Linked DNA regions of Homo sapiens: region 1 is linked to region 2. Evidence: fine-mapped expression QTL. A gene starts in region 2. The other region holds a variant in brackets. All regions are shown on one strand. Distances are from middle to middle.

Evidence for each region. PIP is the estimated chance that this variant, and not a neighbour inherited with it, causes the effect. A credible set is the group of variants that fine-mapping cannot tell apart.
Region 1: its variant is the best candidate, but not a certain one, in a credible set for the expression of MTCL2 in tibial nerve (GTEx, PIP 0.83).

What each region holds. Positions count from the first base shown.
Region 1 is chr20:36,785,175-36,788,071 of GRCh38, reverse strand. It overlaps MTCL2 (microtubule crosslinking factor 2), which reads left to right. Exons shown (of 15, transcript NM_080627.4): 15 at 1,435-2,897. The coding sequence ends at 1,587. Among named protein-coding and RNA genes, the nearest start is that of DSN1, 13 kb to the right of the region's middle. The variant C/A (reference allele first, on the strand shown) is at 1,570.
Region 2 is chr20:36,862,085-36,864,981 of GRCh38, reverse strand. MTCL2 (microtubule crosslinking factor 2) reads left to right here and starts at 1,444. Exons shown (of 15, transcript NM_080627.4): 1 at 1,444-2,324. The coding sequence starts at 1,638. RefSeq lists silencers at 735-1,624, 1,695-1,844.

The DNA of each region.
Region 1 (2,897 bases), 77 kb after region 2:
GTGCCACCATGCCCGGGTAATTTTTGTATTTTGAGTAGAGATGGGGTTTCACCATGTTGGCCAGCCTGGTCTTGAACTCCTGACCTCAGGTGATCCACCTGCCATAGCCTCCCAAAGTGCTGGCATTACAGGTGTGAGCCACCATGGCCAGCTGTCCAGCAGCACTTTTTTTTTTTTTTTTTTTTTCAGATGGAGTCTTGCTCTTTCACCCAGGCTGGAGTGCAGTGGCACAATCTCAGCTCACTGCAACCTCCGCACCCTGGGTTTAAGCGATTCTCCTGCCCTAGCCTCCCGAGTAGCTGGGACTACAGGCGCATGCCACCATGCCCAGCTAATTTTTGTATTTTTAGTAGAGATGGGGTTTCACCATGTTGGCCAGGATGGTCTCGATCTCCTGACCTCGTGATCCACCTGCCTCAGCCTCCCAAAGTGCTAGGATTACAGGCATGAGCCACCGTGCCTGGCAGCAGCACTTTTGATCATTATTTCTGTTTATTGGTAATAGTAAAAAATTAGAAACTACCCAGATGTACATAAAAAGTGAATTGGGGCCAGGCACAGTGGCTCACACCTGCAATCCCACCACTTTGGAAGGCCGAGGCGGGCAGATCACTAGAGGTCAGGAGTTTGAGCCTGACCAACATGCTAAAATCCCCTCTCTACTAAAAATACAAAAATTAGCTAGGCATGGTGGCACACGCTTGTAATCTTAGCTACTTGGGAGGCTGAGGCACAAGAATCACTTGAATCCGTGAGGTGGAGGTTGTAGTGAGTCAAGATCGTACCACTGCACTCCAGCCTGGGGAACAGAGCAAGATTCTGTCTAAAAAATAAAAAAATAAAAAAAGCGAATTGGGTATATAAATCAGTTATTTCTATCTAGTGAAATGGTACAGAGACACTAAAAAAGAAGGCGATCAGCCAGGCATGGTGGCTCATGCCTTTGGGAGGCATGAGCACCCAAAGGTGCTAATTCCAGCAGTTTGGGAGGCTGAGGCAGGAGGATCGCTTGAGCCCAGGAGTTCAAGACCAGCCTGAGCAACATAGTGAGACCCTGTCTCAAACGAAAAAAAAGGATAAAAAGGAAGGAGATCTAGACATACCTAGTGACAGAAAAGTGTTCGTGTTTTACAGTTGCAAAATAAGCTGTCATTTTGGTAAATGTATGTTAAGAATCTCTTTGGCGTGCAGGACCATGGACAGTGTCCACTGTCCTCTCTGTATAGCCTAGAATATATTACAATGAACTTCCATTACCGCTCTAATGGGAGAAGAACAACAGAAAGAAAAAATTGGTCCAGTGAGGAGCTTCAGCCCCTGGGAACTGGTTTATGGCCGAGTCTCAGTTCCTTGCCTGGCATACCACACAGCTCATGGTGGTCCATGTCTCCTGGCTCCTCTTGACTTCCTGCCTCCCTGCCTCCCTCTTCCTAGGACGCTGTTTGTGACTGTAGTACCCAGTCTCTCACCTCCTGCTTCGCCCGATCGTCCCGCTCTGCCATCCGCCACTCTCCTTCCAAGTGCAGGCTGCACCCTTCAGAGTCCAGCTGGGGTGGGGAGGAGAGGGCA[C/A]TCCCCCCCAGCGAGTGACAGAGCAGCCAAGCTCCCCGCCTCAACCAGCCCAGCCCCTGGATAGCAGAAGGGAACCAGCAGAGACGAGACGAGGTGAGGCGAGGGGCTGTGTCCTCAGCATTGCCTGGCCCTGGAGGGACAGCAGTGATGCCACTGCCAGAATGCAGCTTTCACATCAAGGTAAAGCCGGGTCTCCTGCTGGCCCCTGGGTGGTGAGCTTCGACTTCCCAGGGGAAGGCAGTGAGTGGGAGAGAGACCAAACCTGGGCTTCCCAAGCATCCACTGAGAGATCTGTCAAGAGCCGATCCCTGGGTCCTAAGAGAGAGCCTTGCCTGGTTCTGCCCATGCCACCCTCTTGGAAGAGCCCAAGAAGGATACATGTCTGGCCATGCCTTTGGGGAAAAGGAGTCGGAGAGATGTTTCCTGCTGACCATCCACCCCTTCATTTGGGAGGAGACACTGCTGAGAAGAACAGGCTTTGCTCTAGGGCTCCATGTTTGGTTCCTGGTGGAGCCCTGTTGGGCATCATCACCATCACCTCCTTCTCTCCACCACCTCCTCCTCCCAGCCCCACTGCTCTAGATTGCTGGGACACTAGGGAGTATGATAGGGCAGTAGCCAGGGCCATTGCTTAGTGTCCTGGAGCCCTGGATCTCCCTGCCCATAGCCTGGATGCAGCAAGAGCTGGGAGGCGAAGTGGAAACATGCAGGGCTCAGGGTTGGGGAGTGATTGCAATTGCCTTCCTTGCCAAAGTGACTTGGGGCCCCAACGTTCCCAGCAGACCCCTTGAGGACAGAAATAGGTAGAGTCAGTCTCAAGACCTGGTGCATAGATAAATGCCTAAATACACTGCCTTGATCTCAAGTGATCTCAGAGGCCTCTTTCCCTGGCACCCTGAGAGGCAGCAGGCACTACATCTCCACTGTGTTTACATCCTGCAGCTGGTCGGGGGGCAAAGATATTCCCAGTAAGAGATTCTTGGTTGGCCAGGTCAGGCCCAGGAGAACACCAAGAGGCCAGAGCCCAGGACACAGCAGTAGACTGGGGCCTGGAAACACGTATCTTGCCTAGATTGTTTATTTGAATTTTTCCTACTATAAATATTTAAGGTGGTTTACTTTATTTTAATAATTTAATTTACCCCAAAGTCCCTAAGGTAATTTATTGGAGGTTGAAACATGCATTCTTGCCACTGGGACAACATGAGGCCTCTAACAGCACGGGCAGGCATGGGGTCCCCTGGGTGGACGAGGCCGCTTGGCAGCCAGGTTTGGAGACCTGGCCTCCTGGTCAGCTTTGGAGGGCCCCTCAACAGAGCTGGAGCCCT
Region 2 (2,897 bases):
GGGGGCGTAGCGGCCAGGCGGTGTGGGGGCTGGGGAAGGTGTGAGAGACATGGGAAAATCAACACGGCCAGGAGCCAAGGAGACGCCCAGACGCCCGGGAGGAAAGAAAACACGCCCATCAGAGCTCAAGTCCTCCTGCACTGCTCCTGGTGGGGACGTGTGGGGTCAGGGCAACCGTCCCAGCCCATGCCAGCCCCCACGGGGGCCAAAACCGCCTTCCAAAGCATCCGCTAGGCTGACATCTCGTAATAGGTCCCCTCCATTTTATTTTTGTTTTTATTTATTTGTTTATTTTTTTGAGATGGAGTCTAGCTCTGCCACCCAGACTGGAGTGCAGTGGCGCGACCTCGGCTCACTGCAACCTCCGCCTCCCGGGTTCAAGCGATTCTCCTGCCTCAGCCTCCCGAGTAGCTGGGATTACAGGCACGCGCTACCACGCCCGGCTAATTTGTGTATTTTTAGTAGAGACGGGGTTTCATCATGTTGGTCAGGCTGGTCTCGAACTCCTGACCTCGTGATCCACCCGCCTCGGCCTCCCAAAGTGCTGGGATTACAGGCATGAGCCACCGCGCCTAGCTACGGGTCGCTTCCATTTTAGCCGTACAGAGCCTGAAACCCGGGTCGGGGGCGCATGGGGAGAAATATCCGCCGGTCAAGGTGCGCGAGCCAGGCATGCACACAGGGCTTCACGGTCCCTATGCCAGGAGAGGGAAGCCGAGGCAGGGGGAGCCCGAGCGCGCCCGGGAGGTGTGAGCTTTGGGTCCCATCGGCGCCGCCTAGACCGTGAGCTTGGCGCGTGCACCCCAGGCTTCAGTTTACGCATCTGTGCGATGGGATCGCGGCTCCGGCGATGCCGGCTAAGGGGGCGGAGTTCGCGCACGCTCGGCACGGGGCGAGGGGCGAGGCGCTGGGCGTGCATGGATGCGGGTTCCTGCGAACTGAGGTCCGCCCGGCCTCGGCCCGGGAGTCCCGGCTCCCGCCGCTCTCGCAGGCCCTGCCCGGACGCCGGGCGCAGGGGCGCCTCCGCCGGGTGCCTTCCCCGAGCGGGCAGGGGAGGAGGCGGCGGAGCGGAGGAGGAGGGAGCCCGGGCCGCGGCTGCCCGCGCCAGCCTGACCCTCGAAGGGGTCGCTGTTGCCTCGCAGATCCCTCCCTCGCTCCCTGCCTGCGTCCCTCCCTGCCGCTCCCGCCGCGTCCGCCTTTTGTTCGCGGAACCGCGCGCCCCCGAGCCGAGGCGGCGGGGCGGGGAGCTGGCGGGGCTGCGCGGGGGGCGGGCTGCGCCGGGCGGAGCCGGGGCCCGGGCCGCAGCCGGACTCGGAGCCCGAGGGAGCGATCGGCGTGCGGGCGGCGGGGGCCCGGGCGCGCTCCGGGGGCGCGGCGAGGCCGAGGGGGCGGGCGCCGGGCGGAGCCGCAGCCGGAGCCGGGGCGCCTGGAGGCGGTCGGGCCGCACTCTCCGAGCCCAGAGCAGCGGAGAGACCGCGCGGCGGGGCTTGGGACGGGGACGCGGTGTCGGGGCCGAGGTGGGCCGAGAGCAGCCGCAGCCCCAGCGGCCGGAGCCGCGCCGGGTCCCTCCCCAGGGACGTCGAGGCCGGGCGGGCCTGGGCCATGCGCGCAGCTCGCTGAGGCCGAGGGAGGCCGCGATGGAGGCGCCGGCGGCCGAGCCCCCGGTCCGGGGCTGCGGTCCCCAGCCCGCGCCTGCACCCGCGCCTGCCCCGGAGAGGAAAAAGAGCCACCGCGCGCCGTCGCCGGCCCGGCCCAAAGACGTGGCCGGCTGGTCGCTGGCTAAGGGCCGCCGCGGCCCAGGCCCGGGCTCAGCAGTCGCCTGCAGCGCCGCGTTCTCCTCACGGCCGGACAAGAAGGGGCGCGCAGTGGCTCCCGGGGCGCGCGGTGCGGGTGTGCGGGTGGCCGGGGTCCGCACCGGGGTCCGTGCCAAGGGCCGTCCGCGCTCGGGTGCGGGGCCGCGACCGCCACCGCCGCCCCCCAGCCTCACGGATAGCAGCTCGGAGGTGTCGGACTGCGCGTCGGAGGAGGCGCGCCTGCTGGGCCTGGAGCTGGCGCTGAGCAGCGACGCCGAGTCCGCGGCCGGGGGCCCGGCGGGGGTCCGTACGGGGCAGCCGGCCCAGCCCGCGCCCTCCGCGCAGCAGCCCCCGCGGCCGCCCGCCTCCCCGGACGAGCCGTCGGTGGCCGCGTCGTCGGTGGGCAGCAGCCGCTTGCCGCTCAGCGCCTCGCTTGCCTTCTCCGACCTCACCGAGGAGATGCTGGACTGCGGGCCCAGCGGCTTGGTGCGGGAGCTGGAGGAGCTGCGCTCGGAGAACGACTATCTCAAGGTGGGGGCGCCCGGGTAGAAAGGGAGGTCGCAGGGGTCGCCGGCTGTCACAGTCCCGCGGGCCTGAGGCACCAGCCGGCCCTCCTTCCCACTGAACAATCCGGAGAAAGGGGCCCAAGCCCTCTGGGGACCACTCTGAGGTGGATCTGGGGCTCCCTCATTCCCCCCGCCCCCTCTCAACTTTATTTGGGAAGCGCGCTCCTGAAAAAGACCTTGGAACTGGCTACAGGGCCCTAACCTGGGAGCGGGGACTTGAGAAAGCTTTGGAGCGTTCTGGGAGGCGTTGCTGAGGTGGGGGTGGGTAGCCAGGGAAGGGATGGATCTCTGCCTTCAGCTGCCCAGAACCTCCACGCCCAGGCTCTCCTTCTTGGGACGGGATTGATAGACACCGCCGCCAGGGAAACCTGTGGCCATCCCCTGCCCAGGAAAGGCCTGAATGCCATCCTGAGTCGTTACCCAGGGCTTTCCCGGGCGCAGGCCTGTCTCTGCCTGCCTTTCTGGGCGGGTCCAGTTTGAAAGCATGACATCTGGGAACATCCCCTTGGCTGGAGTCCACTTCCGCCCAGCCTAACGG